Regions from separate parts of the Homo sapiens genome. Here region 2 is linked to region 1. The links come from fine-mapping of genetic effects on gene expression. Tissue or cell type: spleen. Region 1 holds a variant in brackets; the other region holds the start of a gene. All regions are shown on one strand. Distances are from middle to middle.

Evidence for each region. PIP is the estimated chance that this variant, and not a neighbour inherited with it, causes the effect.
Region 2: CDH4 starts here. The variant in region 1 is fine-mapped to the expression of CDH4 in spleen (GTEx, PIP above 0.99).

The regions. Positions count from the first base shown.
Region 1 is chr20:61,345,946-61,354,123 of GRCh38, forward strand. The region is part of intron 2 of CDH4 (cadherin 4); the gene reads left to right. Among named protein-coding and RNA genes, the nearest start is that of CDH4, 98 kb to the left of the region's middle. RefSeq lists an enhancer at 7,778-8,178. The variant T/C (reference allele first, on the strand shown) is at 4,053.
Region 2 is chr20:61,247,484-61,255,661 of GRCh38, forward strand. CDH4 (cadherin 4) reads left to right here and starts at 4,778. Exons shown (of 16, transcript NM_001794.5): 1 at 4,778-5,087; 2 at 7,343-7,454. The coding sequence starts at 5,031. RefSeq lists an enhancer at 6,882-7,574.

The DNA of each region.
Region 1 (8,178 bases):
GGTATTTTGTAAGCATTCTGGCAGCACGTTCTCCCTTCCTCATGCGGGTGGCACTCCCCTGGGAGAGGCAGAACACACAGGGAAGTACACAGTGAGCAGAATAAATGCTCACGCGGGACAAATTAACCCACGCGGGATAAATGCTGCAGGGAAACCAGCATCATGGGCTGGAGGCTGAGGGGTGATGTGCAGTCAGGACAGTCTCTCTCAGGGTGAGGTGGTCATTCCATTCTGTCAGGCCCTGGGGCTGAGTGTGTCTGGAAGAGGGAACAGCAGAGGCAGGGGACTGAGACCAGGATAGTCAGGAGGTCCTAGAGGAACCACAAGACGGCCCCAGGGGCCATGAGTAGAATCAGTGCATGGTTGGTGTGGTCGGAGGGAGGCAGGGATCAGCCAGGCCAGCCATGGGAGCCCCAGCAAGGAGCTTGGGCTGCATTCCCACGGCCATGAGGAGGCTTTGGAGGGTCTGAGCAGGAACGTGCTGTTGGATTTGAGGTTTAAATTAACCCCTCTGCTGACCGGGCATGGTGGCTCACGCCTGTAATCCCAGCACTTTGGGAGGCTGAGGCAGGCGGATCACCTGAGGCCAGGAGTTCAACACTAGCCTGGCCAACATGGCGAAACCCCATCTCTACTAAAAATACAAAAATTAGCTGGGCGTGGTGGCACGTGCCTGTAGTCCCAGCTACTCAGTAGGCTGAGGCAGGAGAATCACTTGAACCCAGGAAGCGGAGGTTTCAGTGAGCTGAGATCACACCACTGCACTCCAGCCTGGGTGACAGAGCGAGACTCTGTCAAAAAAAAAAAAAAAATTAACCCCTCTGCTGTGGCATGAGAATGGATTCCGGGGGCCAGGGTGCAGCAGGAAGCCAGGCTCTGCGCTATGCAGGTGAGAGGCGACGGTGAGTGGGCCAGGGTGGGAATTAGATCATATTGACTCCACGTACGGGTGCCCCCCATCTGTCCCTCATCCCCATCCCACATTCCCAGGCAGTTCTGCTTGCTCCCCTGCAGATTGGCACACATGTCTCATAAACCATCTCTCCCATTGTCTAATAACATGGTTTCATGGCTGTCTCCTCCATTAGCCCAAGGGTTCTTCAAGGTCAGTACCACGTTTTACTAACTTCATCTGTAGAACCCAGTGTAGGGCCCGAACTCCCAGCAGGAACCTACATTACCCCTGACTCATGGACTGCGGTTCTCAGAACCTGACCTCTGTGGGAGACCAAAGTCATAGCCTCGTGCCCCACATGGCCGTGAGGCCCTGCCCGCATTCAGAAGACAGGTGACAGCCCGTGCCGCTGCCTGGCTAAATGCTTGCTCCACACATTTTACTAGTGGCGGCTGAGTCTGCGTGATGGCCAACGTGGTTTTAGAAATATACACCTAGATTAGATGAGGCTTCTGTCTTAGATGATTCCAAATGTTCTTACTTGGATTTTGCTTAAAGGAAAAACAAAACTATCTACACATTTCCCCCTCTTCATACTTTACCAAAAAGAAAGAGAAAAAATGTAAGAGGATATTGACTCCCACGATGCTTCCTGCGGTGACTAAATATAAATATGTATGACAGATCGCAGAAGGAATCATTAATGGCAGCTGTCAGTGCTATTTAAAATGAATTAGACCTTTCCAGTTTCCCTCTAGTGTGAGCGCTGAGAGACACATAAGGCTGTTCTGATTCATCGTGGACCTGGAAGTCCATTGTTCAGCTTAGTCGGGAGATGTATATGCTTATCAGGCAAAATAAGCTGGCGGGGGCTGGTGTTTGCGAAGCGCCAACTCGCCTTCTTTGTCTCATAACATTTGGCGGGGTGTGCTTTCCTGGTTCGGCACGGGACATTGGTCTCTTCAACTTCAGCTGATTTGAATTGGGACCCACAAACCAGGTGGGAAGCATGGCGTTTGAACCGTGCCTGGAATATCAGATGAGTCCTGTGTCTGCAAAGTCTGATAGTCAGAGGGAATAACAAGTCCTTAAAATGAGGAACAGCCCTTTCCATGGTTAAAGGGAAGAGTGGAAACCCACGTGTGTATTATCGGGGAAGACTTTCTTCTGGGAACAGGTGTGCCTGTAACATGGTGACTTCCCACTGGTCTGTTTCGCCCCATAATGGTAAGCATTCCTACATTTGGAGAGAGTAGGTATATTAGTCTGTTCTTACACTGCTAATAAAGACATACCTGAGACTGGGTCATTTATAAAGGAAAGAGGTTTAATGGACTCGCAGTTCCACATGGCTTGGAAGGTCTTACATTCATGGTGGAAGGCAAAGGAGGAGCTAAGGCACATCTTACATGGTGGCAGGCAAAAGAGCATGTGCAGGGGACTCCCCTTTATCAAATCATCAGATCCCATGAGACTTATTCGCTATCACGAGAACAGCACGGGAAAGACCCACCCCCATGATTCAATTACCTCCCACGGGGTCCCTCCCATGACACATGGGAATTATGGGAGCTACAATTCAAGATGAGATTTGGCTGGGGACATAGCCAGACCATATCAATAGGAGACAAGGGAACTGTTGCCAGCGGTTCCCTCCACCAAGACCTAGAGAGACTGAATGCTGCCCACTTTTTCTCATCTTAAAGCTGAGCTTCCAGTGAGAGCTTCACTTCTGTTCTCTTTAATTTTCTTTCACTTCCGGTGTTTAAATAACCCAGGATCAGTTTATGTATCATGATATCTTCTTTCAATAATCTGGCTGAATCTCTCCAAATGGCTGGGAGTTTATGGCCCTGGGCAGGTGGACGAGTGGGCAGAAGTGAGAACAGGACTTCAGGAAGTATAAAAGCTCTTGTCACTTCCAAAGGGCCTCTTTCTTCCTGGCTTTGAAATAAACCCTCTGATGGCCGCCAGTAACTGTTTCTCTCTCAAGTATGGAAGAGAAAGCCATTTGGATTTTTGGATGTAATTGACACAGGGTCTCTAAAAGTTCTTGTTTGTTTTTCGTTTGTTTTGGGACTACATTTGAAAGAAGAGGCATAGAGACCCGCAGCCCCTCCTGTCCTGGCTGCCCAGGGCTTCTGGGAATAACAGTGGTGGTGGGAGGGCCACATTGTGCCGCAATTGTTCCTTTATGTAGTTAGCTTCCTGTTTTATTTTATGCTGTGCGGCCCCAGCATCCAGGGTTTTGTGCTTGGAAGATCACACGTATGTCATGGGACAGAGTTCCTGTCTATATGGAACATGGGCCACTTCTCAGGAACCGGCCTGCAGCCCCGATGGACAGGCTGGGTCATCAGGAACAGACAGCGGGGACCCTGCAGGGCCACATATGCTCTACCTGCCCCAACCCAAGGCTGCTCCGTAGCCGTGGAGTTGGTGGTTCTGGGGAGAAAGGTGGCTGCAACCTGGGATTCAGCCCCAGCTCCGCAGCCGGGTGTGGCAGCTCCTGTGCTGGGTAGGATTCAGCACATCTGGGCTGAAGTTTTCATCTTGAGCACCAGCTAATGTTTGATGTGAATTGAATCATAGGGAGAAAATGCCCACTTGAGGCGTGAGCCAGTTAATTTACAAAGTCAGTGAGGGAAAATCCTGCAGGTGCCCGGGAAGGGTGAGCGCAGAGCCAGGATCCAGACGAGGCCGGGAGCTGGGGTGCTGGCTGATGTCCCCGTTGCTGGATGCTGCTGGATGTGTATGGACCTGGGGTATGGCACAGCAGGCCTCATCGGGAGGTCTGTGGAGTGAAAGCTGGGGCTCCCCACAGCTCCCTTCCATGCCCCGTGAGGCACGCCCTTGTGTTATAAAGAATCACACAGTCCCTCGTGGAGACGGCTCTCAGGGGCAGTCTTGCTGATCCTTCTGCAAATAAGACCCCTCTGAGGCCAACCATGTACGTGGAAAGGAGCATGTGCTCCTAAGTTTTCCAGGAGGGGAAAGGACCAAGTTCATGTGGGACCCAGCTCAGAGCACAGCTCACCCCCGGGGCAGGGCAGCTCATGCTACCATTCGAGCGAGTGGTGGCCTCAGTGCCAGACTCAGCCCAGCGCCAGGAACCCAGGAATCCCTCTCCTCCTGCCCCTGCCCACTGGGACAGTCA[T/C]GTCAGGAAGGAACTGGACACATGTGGGCGAGGAGGCAGCCGCCCTCCAGTGCCACAAGGCCAGCGGAATACCTCTGACCTTGCCTCTCCCACCCAGCGTCAGGCAGACACCTCCCCCTCCCCCAGTGCTGCAGAGGCCAGCGGAACACCTCTGACCTTGCCTCTCCCACCCAGCGTCAGGCAGACACCTCCCCCTCCCCCAGTGCTGCAGAGGCCAGCGGAACACCTCTGACCTTGCTTCTCCCACCCAGCGTCAGGCAGACACCTCCCCCTCCCCCAGTGCTGCAGAGGCCAGCGGGACACCTCTGACCTTGCCTCTCCCACCCAGCGTCAGGCAGACACCTCCCCCTCCCCCAGTGCTGCAGAGGCCAGCGGAACACCTCTGACCTTGCCTCTCCCACCCAGCGTCAGGCAGACACCTCCCCCTCCCCCAGTGCTGCAGAGGCCAGCGGAACACCTCTGACCTTGCCTCTCCCACCCAGCGTCAGGCAGACACCTCCCCCTCCCCCAGTGCTGCAGAGGCCAGCGGAACACCTCTGACCTTGCCTCTCCCACCCAGGGTCAGGCAGGCCCCCCACAGTGCTGCAGAGGCCAGCGGGACACCTCTGACCTTGCCTTTCCCACCCAGAGTCAGGCAGATCCCTGCCCTCTCCCAGTGCCATGATGCCAGCAGGACACCTCTGACCTTGCCTCTCCCACCCAGCATCAGGCAGAGGCCCCCCCCCAGTGCTAACTGCGCCCTCAAGTGGCCTGGGGAGAAAAGTTGTGTTGTGAGCGGAAAATTGCCACTCTTATGGGAAAGATGATGCTGTGTTGGAAACTCAAGCTTCACTTGGAATTATGATTCCATGAGCATGTCGCATGCTGCCTTTTTTTTATTTTCTAGGAATAATTTTGAAAGGAAATATTGTACACATTGAAGAGTGACTCAATACAGAGACCATCGCTCTAGGCTGAGCCGGTCTGAAGCAGGAACCAGGCATGTGCTGCATCCTGAACGCCAACAAACCTGTGTTCACGGTGGTGCTGGGGTGGCAGCTGTGGTGGGGGCAATGCCTTGGGTGTCACAGCCGCCCTCCCTCCATCCCCGGGCAGCCCGTGCTCAAGGCCTGCTGTCCTCCGTGCTTTCAGATGCTGGGAAGGTCAGGTGATGGCCATTTGCAGGGCTCTGCCTCCCTGGATCAACCAACCACAGATCAGAAATATTCGGAGGAAGAATTGTGCCTGTACTGAACATGGACAGATTTTTTCTTGTCATTCTTCCCTACACAATACAATCTAACAACTGTGTACATAGCATTTACATTGTATTCCATAATATAAGTGATCCAGAGGTGATTTCAAGTCTATGCGAGGGGGTGCCTGGATTCTACGCACACACTGTGCTATTTCGTATCAGGGACTTGGGCGTCTACAGATTTTGGCATGCACGGTGGTAGGTCTTGGAACCAGTCTCCCACTGATACCAAGGGACAGCTGTATACTTTGGCATAAATGACATTTACTAGACATATAGTTCTGCAACTTACTTTTGTTGTAATTTTTATTTTTTGAGGCTACACAGCAGGTATGTATGTGTATGGGGGGGACGTGAGATGTTTTGATACAGGCGTAGAATGCACCGTAATCATATCAGGGCAATGGGATGCTGTCCCCTCAAGCATTTATCCTTTGTGTAACAAACTAATCCAGTTACACTCCTTTAGTTATTTTTATTTTTATTTATCTTTTTTTTTTTTGAGACAGTCTCACTCTGTCGCCCATGCTGGAGTGCAGTGGCGCAATCTCGGCTCACTGCAACCTCCGCCTCCCAGGTTCAAGCGATTCTGCAGCCTAAGCCTCGCGAGTAGCTGGGACTATGGGCAGGCGCCACCATACCAGGCTAATTTTTGTATTTTTAGTAGAGACGGGGTTTCACCATGTTGGCCAGGCTGGTCTCGAACTCCTGGCCTCAGGTGATCCACCCACCTCGGCCTCCCAAAGTGCTGGGATTACGGGTGTGAGCCACCGCACCCGGCCTCCTTTAGTTATTTTTAAGTGTGCAATTAGATTATTATTGAGTACAGTCACCCTGTTGTGCTAACAAATCCTAGCTCTTCTTCATTCTTTCTAACTTTTTCTGTGCTCACTCACCGTCTGCACTCTGCCCTCACTACCCTTCCCAGCCTCTGGCCACCTTTCTTCTCCTATCTCCATGAGTTCATTTCATTTTTAGCTTCTGTAAATAAGTGACAATGTGCAAAGTTTGTCTTTCTGTCCTGCAACTTACTTTTAAAATTTAATATATATTGAAATACATGCCGTGTCGGAACAAAGAGTTTTACCTCGTTTAAAAAAAATCCCCGATTAAAATTTATTTAGTCATTTTTGGTGACGTTCGTTTGTTGCCAGCATTGTCCCTCATGAGAGCCAGTGTTTTTCCACAATGCAGTGAGCACGTCTGAAAATGTGGCAAACGTCTTTACATTGCTTTAGAAAGGACTGCACTGGCCCCCGTGCCTGCCAGCGGGGTGTGAGCCGCCTGTGGGGCAGCCTCTCCGGTGCGCGGGACGTCCAGCCCTTTTCGTTTCTGACCTGGTGGAAAGAAAACAAAGCTTTGTATTTTGTTTTGATTTCTATCGCCTGGTTCTGCTGGGGTAGGCCGTTTCGTGTTTGAGCCTGTTTGTATATTTCTCCTTGGATGGAGATGTTCTCTAGGGGGCCTGGCTGTTTCTTGTTGGTTTGCAGGCGTTGTTTTCCTAGCCTGCCATTCACTCCCCCCGGTCACCTGCACTGCATTTTCTTCCTGGCCGTCTGCCGCTTGCTGGTTTTCTGCTCTTCGGAGTTCTTCATCCGGCAGTGCAGCCAGGAGCCCATCACCCCGTGCACCTGTGAGACGCTGCGGACAAGGAGTGTGTCAATGTCCCATCCTTGCGGCGCACAGGAGGTTCCAGGACCCAGGAAGCCTCAACATTCTCTCTGCCTGTGTGGCATGCCGGACCAAGGGGCCCCTGGGGCTGAGCTCAGGCTCTGGGGACCCCACGGGCCCCATCTCCTCCCCTCCCCTCTCTTAGCTCCGCAGGTTTCTGACCCGCCACAGGGGCTCTCGCCTGCCCGACTCTGTCCTGCTTCTTCTGCTCCAGCCACAGGCTTCGCTTCTGGTGTTGGCTCTGCTGTGTCTCAGGTTTCCACCTGTGGAAAGCATATACATGATGAATGTGCTACTTCCTCCCCTGGAGGCAAAGCTTAGTTGGTGGGAGGGGTCTCAAGGTTGTGAATGGGGATCTGGGGGTGCAGAGGTGCCAGGGTCTCTGGAACCATGGGGCAGCCGCGTGTCCCTGAAGCAGCCTGTATCTGGACTAATATTTCCTCTTCCATTAAAATTAATTTAGCAATCTCCAGCGATGTGCCAAGCCTTCGCGCATTGCATAATGCCTGCGACTTTGGCCTGTAAATTTATTTCACCACCGTTATCTAACTCTTTACCTTGTAAGCTGCCTTAATACACTGAGCCTTGCAGAATATAATCTTCACAGAAAACCGAATATATTCCACAGCACTGAGAGTGGACATCTCTCAGACTGGTCACTTCTTGTGCATCCTGGCTTTCAATTCAGGTTAATTCCACTTCCTCCTCTTCCTCCTCCTCCTCATCCTCCTCCTCTTCCCCCTCCTCCTCTTCTTCCTCCTCTTCCCCCTCCTCCTCCCCCTCCTCCTCCCCTCCTCCTCCTCCCCTGCTTCCCCTTTTCCTCTGGAAGGTGATGTGAGTGCAGTACGATGATTCACCCCAGTTCACCTTCCACTGGGTGGGAACAGCGCTTCATGCCAGAGCCTGGAATGTGCCCCGTTAGAAACATCCGCAAATGAAAATTGCTTTTTAGCTTGGTTGGTTTAATGAAATTTATCTTTGAGCATAATGGAGAATGATGATTTTTCACCCCAGCAGCCCTGCTTTGTGCTGAAAGGACTTATCTTCTGTGTCAGTGTTGCAGGACTCTGTTTTCCTGCTTGTAGGTGTGAGGAATCGATAATTTACAGGGATGGGGATTATTCTGAAGATTCTATGGCAGTGGTTTTCAACGAGGGGTGATTTTGCCCTCAAGGGACATTCGAGAACGTCTAGGGATGTTGGGTGGTGCTGGCATCG
Region 2 (8,178 bases), 98 kb before region 1:
GGCTCCCGCTCCAGCAGAGGTTACCCTGACCTCCTTTCTCCTCTGTCAAGCTGCTTCTATAAACCAGCCAGAGACAAGGCAGACATGATGCGAGGTGGAGCCAGGGCCCTGTCGTTGGCCTCCCTGTGACACGTGTGTCTCTGCTCCCACCTCTGGTGTTCCCCCCTTTTTAACAGCAGACAAGAAACAAACAAGCAAAGCAACAACATGGAACAAACAAAAGCCCTGGGATCTCAAAACGGCCCCTCCCCATCTTCTGTTGCCAGGACGCATCTCCCTTCTCCAGCAGATCCGATACCTTTGATTGTTGCATGGTTTGACTGTTTTGTTTTGAATTTTTTTCCCCTTGTGAATTGCATCTCCTGCTCCATGGAAATTTCCAAAGATTCAAAGACCCCCAAGTCCCAGGGGAGTGAGAGAAGCAGCCTCACCTGGTTCTTCCTCAGAACCCAGAGTGCATGGTGTGCTTCTTTGGAGCACAGTCATGACTAAGGCTGTAAGTCTGAACTCAGCCAGCCCTGGGTTCCAGGTCAAGCTCCTCCCCTCTTTTCATGCCTCAGTGTCTTCATCTGTATAATGGGGGAGTGCAGGAAGTACCCCAGGGTACAGTGCAGCCAGTGGGGGTCATCGTTGGTATCATTGCTTTATGGGTCCACCCCCTGGGGGCTCCTAGAGGGTTAGAGCCTGGGCCACATGTGGAGAGGGGAACACCCTGTTCCCCCACCCTCAAGGCTCTCGGAGTGGCCAGAGGGCGGACACACAGAAAGGAGCTCCACCACACTGTGAGGAGAGAGGTGTCCACCAAGCCCTGCAGCAGCTAAAGCCAACACAGTGCTCCGAGAGAAAGGAGCTCCGGAGGGAGCAGCAGAGGCACAGGCACAGAGCCTGGATGGGGGCGTGTGCTTCTGGATGGACTAGAGGGTCAGGATTCTGCTGGTGGCGAGTGGGCCAGGCTGAGCATGAGACTGGAAAAGGAAAGAAGACAGCCCTAGGTTGGAAGGGGACATTTGCATCTTTCCCCCTGGGATTTCTGCTTCCAAGGGATGCACCTCACAGCCATGCCCCCAGGTCCTAAGTCACGCTGCCTGGAGTAGAATCTCAGCCCACCCCGTGCCGGCGGGTGACCCAGGCCAGGCTGCTCACATACCCAAGTCTGTCCTGTCTGTGGACCATGGGCATCACCACCTCCGTCCTATGTGAGGATCGCATGGGATCATGACTGAAAACCTTCGACACAGTACCTGCCACACAGTACATAGGGATCCCTGTTCATGGAGAAAGATAGATTTTGAAAAACCTACAACAATAACTCTATTCCTTTCTTTATTCCCAGTGTAGCTTCACCTCAGCGGGTGAGCGTTATTGGAATGGAAGGCAGGGAGCGATCTGTACTGGTCTCTCTGCTGCCTGCTCGCCCCTCTCAATCTCTCCTTTGCTTTTTGCTTTAAGATCGCTCTTCTCTATTGCATGCAGGGAGTTTTCTTGAGCTGGGTAGCAGGCTGATTCCATTCATTTCTACAGTGCCTTGAATATCTTCAATCGCCCACAAAGACAATGTTTTATTCTACGAACACACCTTTTGCCAACATCTCACTGCTTTCTGTACAAAACAGCCTTTTTGTCGAACATTGAAGTGTCTACAATAATAACTATCAATAGGGAAGGAAACAAATTAACATCCAACGAATATAGGGAAATGTGGCCCTGATACAAGCACTTGGTTTTTGCTTCTAAAGAGGAACCCCTTCCCAGACTCACCTCATCGAGAGGGAGACAGAGAAGTCTATCAAGCTTAGCAAACATCTGTAGTCCAATTACTGTCAACAGTTTACAGGTGTTGAGAGCAAACAGTCACTTATACACTACCTCCCAAATGCATTCTCTTAATCTCTCTTAGAAACAAACGCACACATTTTTCTAGGGCTCTTTATCCAAAGTGCAGAGAGACTAGCTCCTCCTCCAGGCCAGCTGTGGTCTTCCCTGCACTGGGTGGACCAAAGGCAGGCCACAGTCCCACTGGCCAATGTGCCAAACACTGTGCCAGGGTTTCTCCAGCTACCCCAGGCAGAGGCCCAGGCTCCACCCCTGGAGGTCCAGGTTCTGGAAATCCAGGGTGGGGCATAGGAGAGAGCATTTTTCTGATGCTTCCAGCTGCTGCTCTGTTACGTGGGACATACTGTCTGTGGGACAGGCCGTGATTCTCAAATGCTAGTGGCATGAGCATGGACTGGAGAGATTGTTACAAGGTCAGCTTCCAGGCCCCACTTGCAAAAGCTCCAAGTCCATGGATTTCAGGTGGAGCCTAGGAACTGGCATTTTTCATGAGTTTCTCTGTGATTTTGTTGCAGATGATTGCAGACCAGAGGTGGGCGTGGCGGGGAATCCCATCAGCATTCAGAATCAATGTAGCAGGTCTGGGGTAAGGCCTGAGTTTCTGCATTTTTAACAAGCTCCTGGGGGATCTTGATGCTGCTGGTCTGGGGACCACACTCAGAGTGACAGGCTGAAGACCATTCTTTGGAGGCACTGCTTTGTATTTTAGGTCATATTTTTCTTTTCTGTCTCAGCAATCTTTGCTGCTGCATTCAGAGTAAGTCTGATAAACCAATGCTCTCTACTGGACTCCTGTCAGTTACTGCAGTGTTTCTGAAACTATGTATTTCGGAAAATGCGAGTTCCCGTAAGACATTACAGCTGTGTAAGAAGGTTTCTTTGAACAAAGTTGGGGCCATGCTGCGTGTGCCAGGGTCCCAGCTCTGGGTGAGAATGCTGGCACTGCAGCTTTCCCCGTGCCTGCCCTCTGCACCCTCCTCTGCCTGACTGTATAGTGGAGTTAGAAGGACTCCAAGAGCAACTTTACATAAAGCTCCTACACATGTCCCTGGCACATAGCTAGCACCTTGTAAGGACAGGCTATTGTCAAACTCTACCCTTTCTGGAAATCACGCTGCAGTAGACTCAAGATTCATTCAGTAGTAGAGGGAGATGTGCTTAACACAGTGTTTGGAGTTCAGGACCCACCTGCTCCTGGACCCCAGTCTCCCTGCCACACACTCATACCTTTTCTTTTTCAAATTGGCGCGCTCCTCAGCGCTTCAACAGTTTCGCAGAGCACGTTGGAGCAAATGCGGGGGTCTGTGATGCCTCTCCAAAGAAATAACTCGCATAATGCTCAGGCCTCCTGCAGACAAAGGTGTATCCCCAGCGACAGATATTTTAAGAAAATAGACCAGGGACACAAGACAAGAGAGCTGTCTTGGTGTCTAAAGCAGTCTTGGACAGCTTCTGATGTCGCTCGAGCAGTGGTGAAGCACCTTGAATAAGGAGGAAAGCAGAGGGGGCGTCTTCCCAAAGGACGGGCACATGGCCGAGGAATGGAATTCTCTGTCCATGAGGATTTTGGATGGATCTGTTCATGAAACCTCACTGGCTACGCAGGACCTTCGAGTGAGTCTAAACCTCCAGCCATGTCAACTGGTAACCTCTCCTTCTTCGGCTAGGTGGGGAGTGGGACAAGGCCATAACTGATAGGAGTCCAGGCTGGGGCAGATTTTGTGTCTCCTGACTAGTTCCATAGTTAAGTTGCAAAACCGAATCTCGCCTTGTGCTCTCGGATGTAGTGCTTACTCTGGTCCTCTGGGGTTATCTAAAATCTGGTTTCCTTAAGCGTAAGGCAGAGCTCTAACCGGGAGACCACCCTGCCCCCAAGGGTGGGGGTTCTGGGAGGGAGAGAGGGAAGCGGCTGCTCTGTAGCTTTCTCTACTGGCTTGCCCAAGTGGACTCTGATCTTGGAGCTCAACAGTGTCACTCAATCTTCCACCCTCTCCTTTGCAACCTATTTCTTAAACCAGAACTAATGTATTCTGGACACAGAGTCCCTGAAACCCCAGACAAAGAAAATTCGATGTATCTGAACAAACAAAACCGCGTTTCTTTAAATCTCCAAGCCAAAAGGAAAAGTGCAGAAACATTTACTCACTGTCCGACCTGTACATATATTTTACCTGATAACCCTTAAAGAAGTGCCCCCCAGTTCAGCCATCACCCATGCAGGGCAAAGGGAGCTGGAGCTGGCCCAGCCTGTCGGCGCAGACACTCCTGACAGCTCCTGTCTGGGCACTTCTTTCTTTCTTGGAGCTTCTAATTTCTTTCTTGGCTTCTGAGGCCTAACAGGGTGTTTTGATGCACACACAGGAATTACTACCGTCCCCAATCCTAGGGTACATCCCTAGCCCAGGCCAGGGCTTTGAGTTTTCCTAGGAGCGGGAGGGTCTGCAAAGCCCCACAGGCTGAAATCTCAGCGTGGCCCTCTGCTCATCTGCTCCAGGTGGAAACTCTCACCCCTGAGCTGCCCGACCTGGGTTCAAGCCCGGGTCAGGGGAGTTAGCAAGGAGACACCTGAAAAATAAAAGGACAGAATGGAAGTGCACACTCCCACCGCGGGCCCGGGCGGGAAGTCGGACTAAGACCGCGGCGGGACCGCCCCATCCAGAAAGGGTGCCCCGGGTGTGGGGGCGGAAACCCCAGCGCTGTCTTCAGTCTCCACACCCGCGCCTTTTTCCCCTGGAAAACGAGCGTCCTTGGCCTCTTCGGCCGCAACCGGGCGGCTCCAGACGTCCAGGAGGGCAGAGGCTGGGCTGGTGCGGCGCGGGGGGCGCGGGCGCGGGCTCTGCGCCTTTAAGGCCCGCGTCGGCAGAGCGAGCGCAGGGGCCGGGCGGCGGGGCGGGGCCTCGGCGGGGCGGCCGCGGCTTCACCTGCAGCTCCGAGCGCGCGGAACAGAGGCGCGGGCGGCTGCGAGGCCGGCGGACGCACCGGCCCGAGGGAACGCGCCGCCGGCCGGACTTGGCCTGGCTCCCGGAGCCGGGGCGGCGAGCGCGGCGGGCGCAGCGGGGCTGGAGGCTCCGGGCAGGCGCGGGGGAGCGGCGGCGGCGGCGGCGATCGGAGCGGCGGCGGTGGTCTCGGCGGCGGCGGCGGCGGCGGCGGCAGGGAGCGGGCTCCCGGTGCCGGGCACCGGGCGGGCGGCGGGGAAGATGACCGCGGGCGCCGGCGTGCTCCTTCTGCTGCTCTCGCTCTCCGGCGCGCTCCGGGTAAGTTGCCGCCTCCCGCCCCCGCCGTTCGGAAGCCCCGGGCAGCGGGAGGTCGTCCCCGGATCCCGCGGGGCGCTCACACACCCGGCGGGGCTCTCCCGGGCTCCCCCGCCGCGCTCCCCGCTGCATCCAGCCCGGCGCCCGCGCTCGGCGAAGCTGCCTGCGGTCGGCAGGAGCGGGAAGCCGCCTGGGCAGCGGGGAGCGGCGGAGCAGGGTGGGAGTGGGGCTCGGTGGAGGACCCGGGGAGCTCCGCCTGCACCGGACCCGCCGAGCCTCCCTCGAACGCCCAAAGCCCGTAGCCGCTACCCGGAGCTCGGCTTGCCTGCATGGGGCAGGCTTCCACTGGCGGAGCCGGCGCGCCCTCCATCGCCCGGGAGCCGCGCGCCGCGGGAGTTGCCGAGCCCAGCCCCGGCCGTGGCTGAAGGCGTGGGGCGCCCGGCGGCTGCGGGCCAGGGATCCGCGAGTGCGGGGCGCCTGCCCGACCTCTCCTGCCCAAGGCCTGGGGGTCCGTCTAGCGGCGCCGCTCAGTTCTGTGGGTGCCGGCAGGACCCGCGCTGCGGGTGGGCGGCGGGGTAGGACTGCGGGGCACTCTCACCCCCGAGCCCTCGGCGGGGCTGGAGCCTGCGTGTCCGGCGGGGCCCCGGGGGCTGGGAGCTGGGCCGGGCTTGGGCCGGGAAGCCGGACGCCGGGCGGGCGCGGCGCGGGAGGGCGCCCCGGGAGGGCGAGCGGGTCTCCCGCTGCCTCTGCAGAGCCCCGCGGGCCGGATTGCCAGCTTTGCTCTGCGCCTGGCGAGGTGCGCGGCCCGCGGGGGCAGAGAGCGCGGCGGCTCCGGGGGCGCCCCTGGGCGGAGGCGGAGGGGCGGCGGGAGTTGCAGGAACCCCCTCTCGTGGCCGATCGGCCTCGCTGCCTTCTCCCGGGCAGCGCTGTTGTAACCTCGGAAATAAACAAGTGCCAGCGGCGGGAGGCCCGCTCCGAGGCCGCGGGGCGCTGGGGGACGCGCTGGGCACACGCTTCGGGCGGGCGGAAACTTTCCTGGGCGAGTTGAGCCTCCCACCGGGCTGCGGGTGCGATTTGGAGCTTCGTGGCCGATGAAGAAAGCCGCGGTTTAGAGCTTTTCGTAAGGAATGACCCTGCGTCCCGCTCTCCTCCCTCGGTGCTGGGGGTAGAGGGGCGCCCTCCGCGGTGCCGGCGTCGGGAAGCCTGGAGCTCCGGGCTGGGGGCGGCCTCCGGAGTCGAAGCATGGGCGGGCGACGGCAGCGCGCGGAGCTGGAGGAGGCGGCGGGCGGGAGGCGCCACTGCCCGGTGCGGGCTGCACCCGAGGCTTCCTGCGCTCGCCGGGGAGCCAAGCACCGCTGTGCTCCTGCTCCTTCAGCGGGGCTGGCTTCCCGCTTGCACACACTGCCTCTCCCTCCACCACCTCCTCCTGCCTGTCACGCCCCCTCCCAGAAGCTTGGTCGGAGGGCCCTGTCGTCCACCCCATCCTTCCCTGGCCCTGTGCCATGGGCTCTAGACTTCCCCACTGAGCAGGAAAGGCGAGCGAGCTCCGGAGGACAGGAGGAGACCCCCTTTCCGGTCAGTTAGGGGAGCCGTCTCCCTGCCTGGGCTGGAGATGGGGGCTCCGAGGGTGAAAATGCGGGCTGAAGACTAGAAGGTGGAAGCGCCCCCACTGCCTCCTCACCCCAGCCACCGGCAGCCTCCCGCAGAGCTGCCTTCTTCGACCGGCTCCGGACCTAGTCCTAGAGAATCTTCTTCCTTTCTCTCCTCTTTCTCCTCCCTCCCGGTGACCTGGAGAGGAGACAAGAAGCTGCCTCCTCCGCCTTACCAAGAGCGCAGAGCGGTGGGCCTAAAGCGCGAATGGTCTGAGCAGAGCCGCCCACACTTTGGCCTCCCTGCCCTTAGTGGCTTCGGGAGCAGCGGCTGAAGTCTTCTGTCTCTGCCTTTTGGTCATTTCTCAGGCGTCTCCTCTGCCAATAAGGCCCTGGCCGGCCTGGCTTCCCCAACAGTCCGTCCTTCACTCCCTGCCTGCTGTGTGTGGGGCTGGGGAAGGATGCTCCTGGTCTGTAGCCTGGAGAGTGCTCCCTAAAGTCCCCAGAGAGCAGAGGAGCAGACGGGGTATCGCGTCTGGGTGGAGACGGTGGCCTGCCAGCCTTTCTCTCTTAGCCAGAGACCTTTTACACAGCAGGCCCTGGATGAATGTTGGTTGGATTAAATTTCTGTGAACTTATTGTTTTACACTCTCCCCTTTGTGTTCTCAGGCCCATAATGAGGATCTTACAACTAGAGAGACCTGCAAGGCTGGGTTCTCTGAAGATGATTACACGGCATTAATCTCCCAAAATATTCTAGAAGGGGAAAAGCTACTTCAAGGTAAGGCGGGGTGTGGAGGGGTGGGAGTGAATTGCTGCCATGCTTTTCCTTGGGGAAACATGTAGATGGGAGAGGCAAGGCTTGCCTCATCTTTGTGCTCTCTGTGAAATGATGGTGGTGAAGTCCACGAGGTGCAAATTGGTTGACCTGAAAGGCGTTTTGCATAACAGGTGAATGATTCAGAACCCCGGTCATTTTTGAGTGAAGTGAATCATTTCCTGGGCAGCAAACTGTAATTCGGATGTAACATCACCCAAATAGTGTGCAGAGAGAGACCTTCTTACCAAGTATTTTTATGCATGAAGTTCTGGATACTTAAATTATCCCTGCTTTGAAATGTATGATAAAGCAGACGATGTTGTTGGAAATGCGGTAAATAAGCCCACAGACGGTCTGTTCACAAATGTGGCATTCATTTTCATTACTGCCCCACTGACAACACGAAAACACACATGCAGGAGGGAACTACCAATTAGCTTTATCGTAATTGCAGGATTATATCCACACTTGTGATGGGAAAGTCAGAGACAGCTTCAAAACTCAGATGACAGTAGATCATCCTGCTTATTGGTCTGTTTCCCTTTCAAGACAAACTAATTAGACTTTATATTTGCATAGGAGGGGACATAAATCAGTTCTGTGCCATGAGCACCTTGGCTGTGAGCCTTTCCTCTCTGCATCAGTTTCCTGGAAGTGGCAGCCTTTGAATTGATTTCAAAGCGAT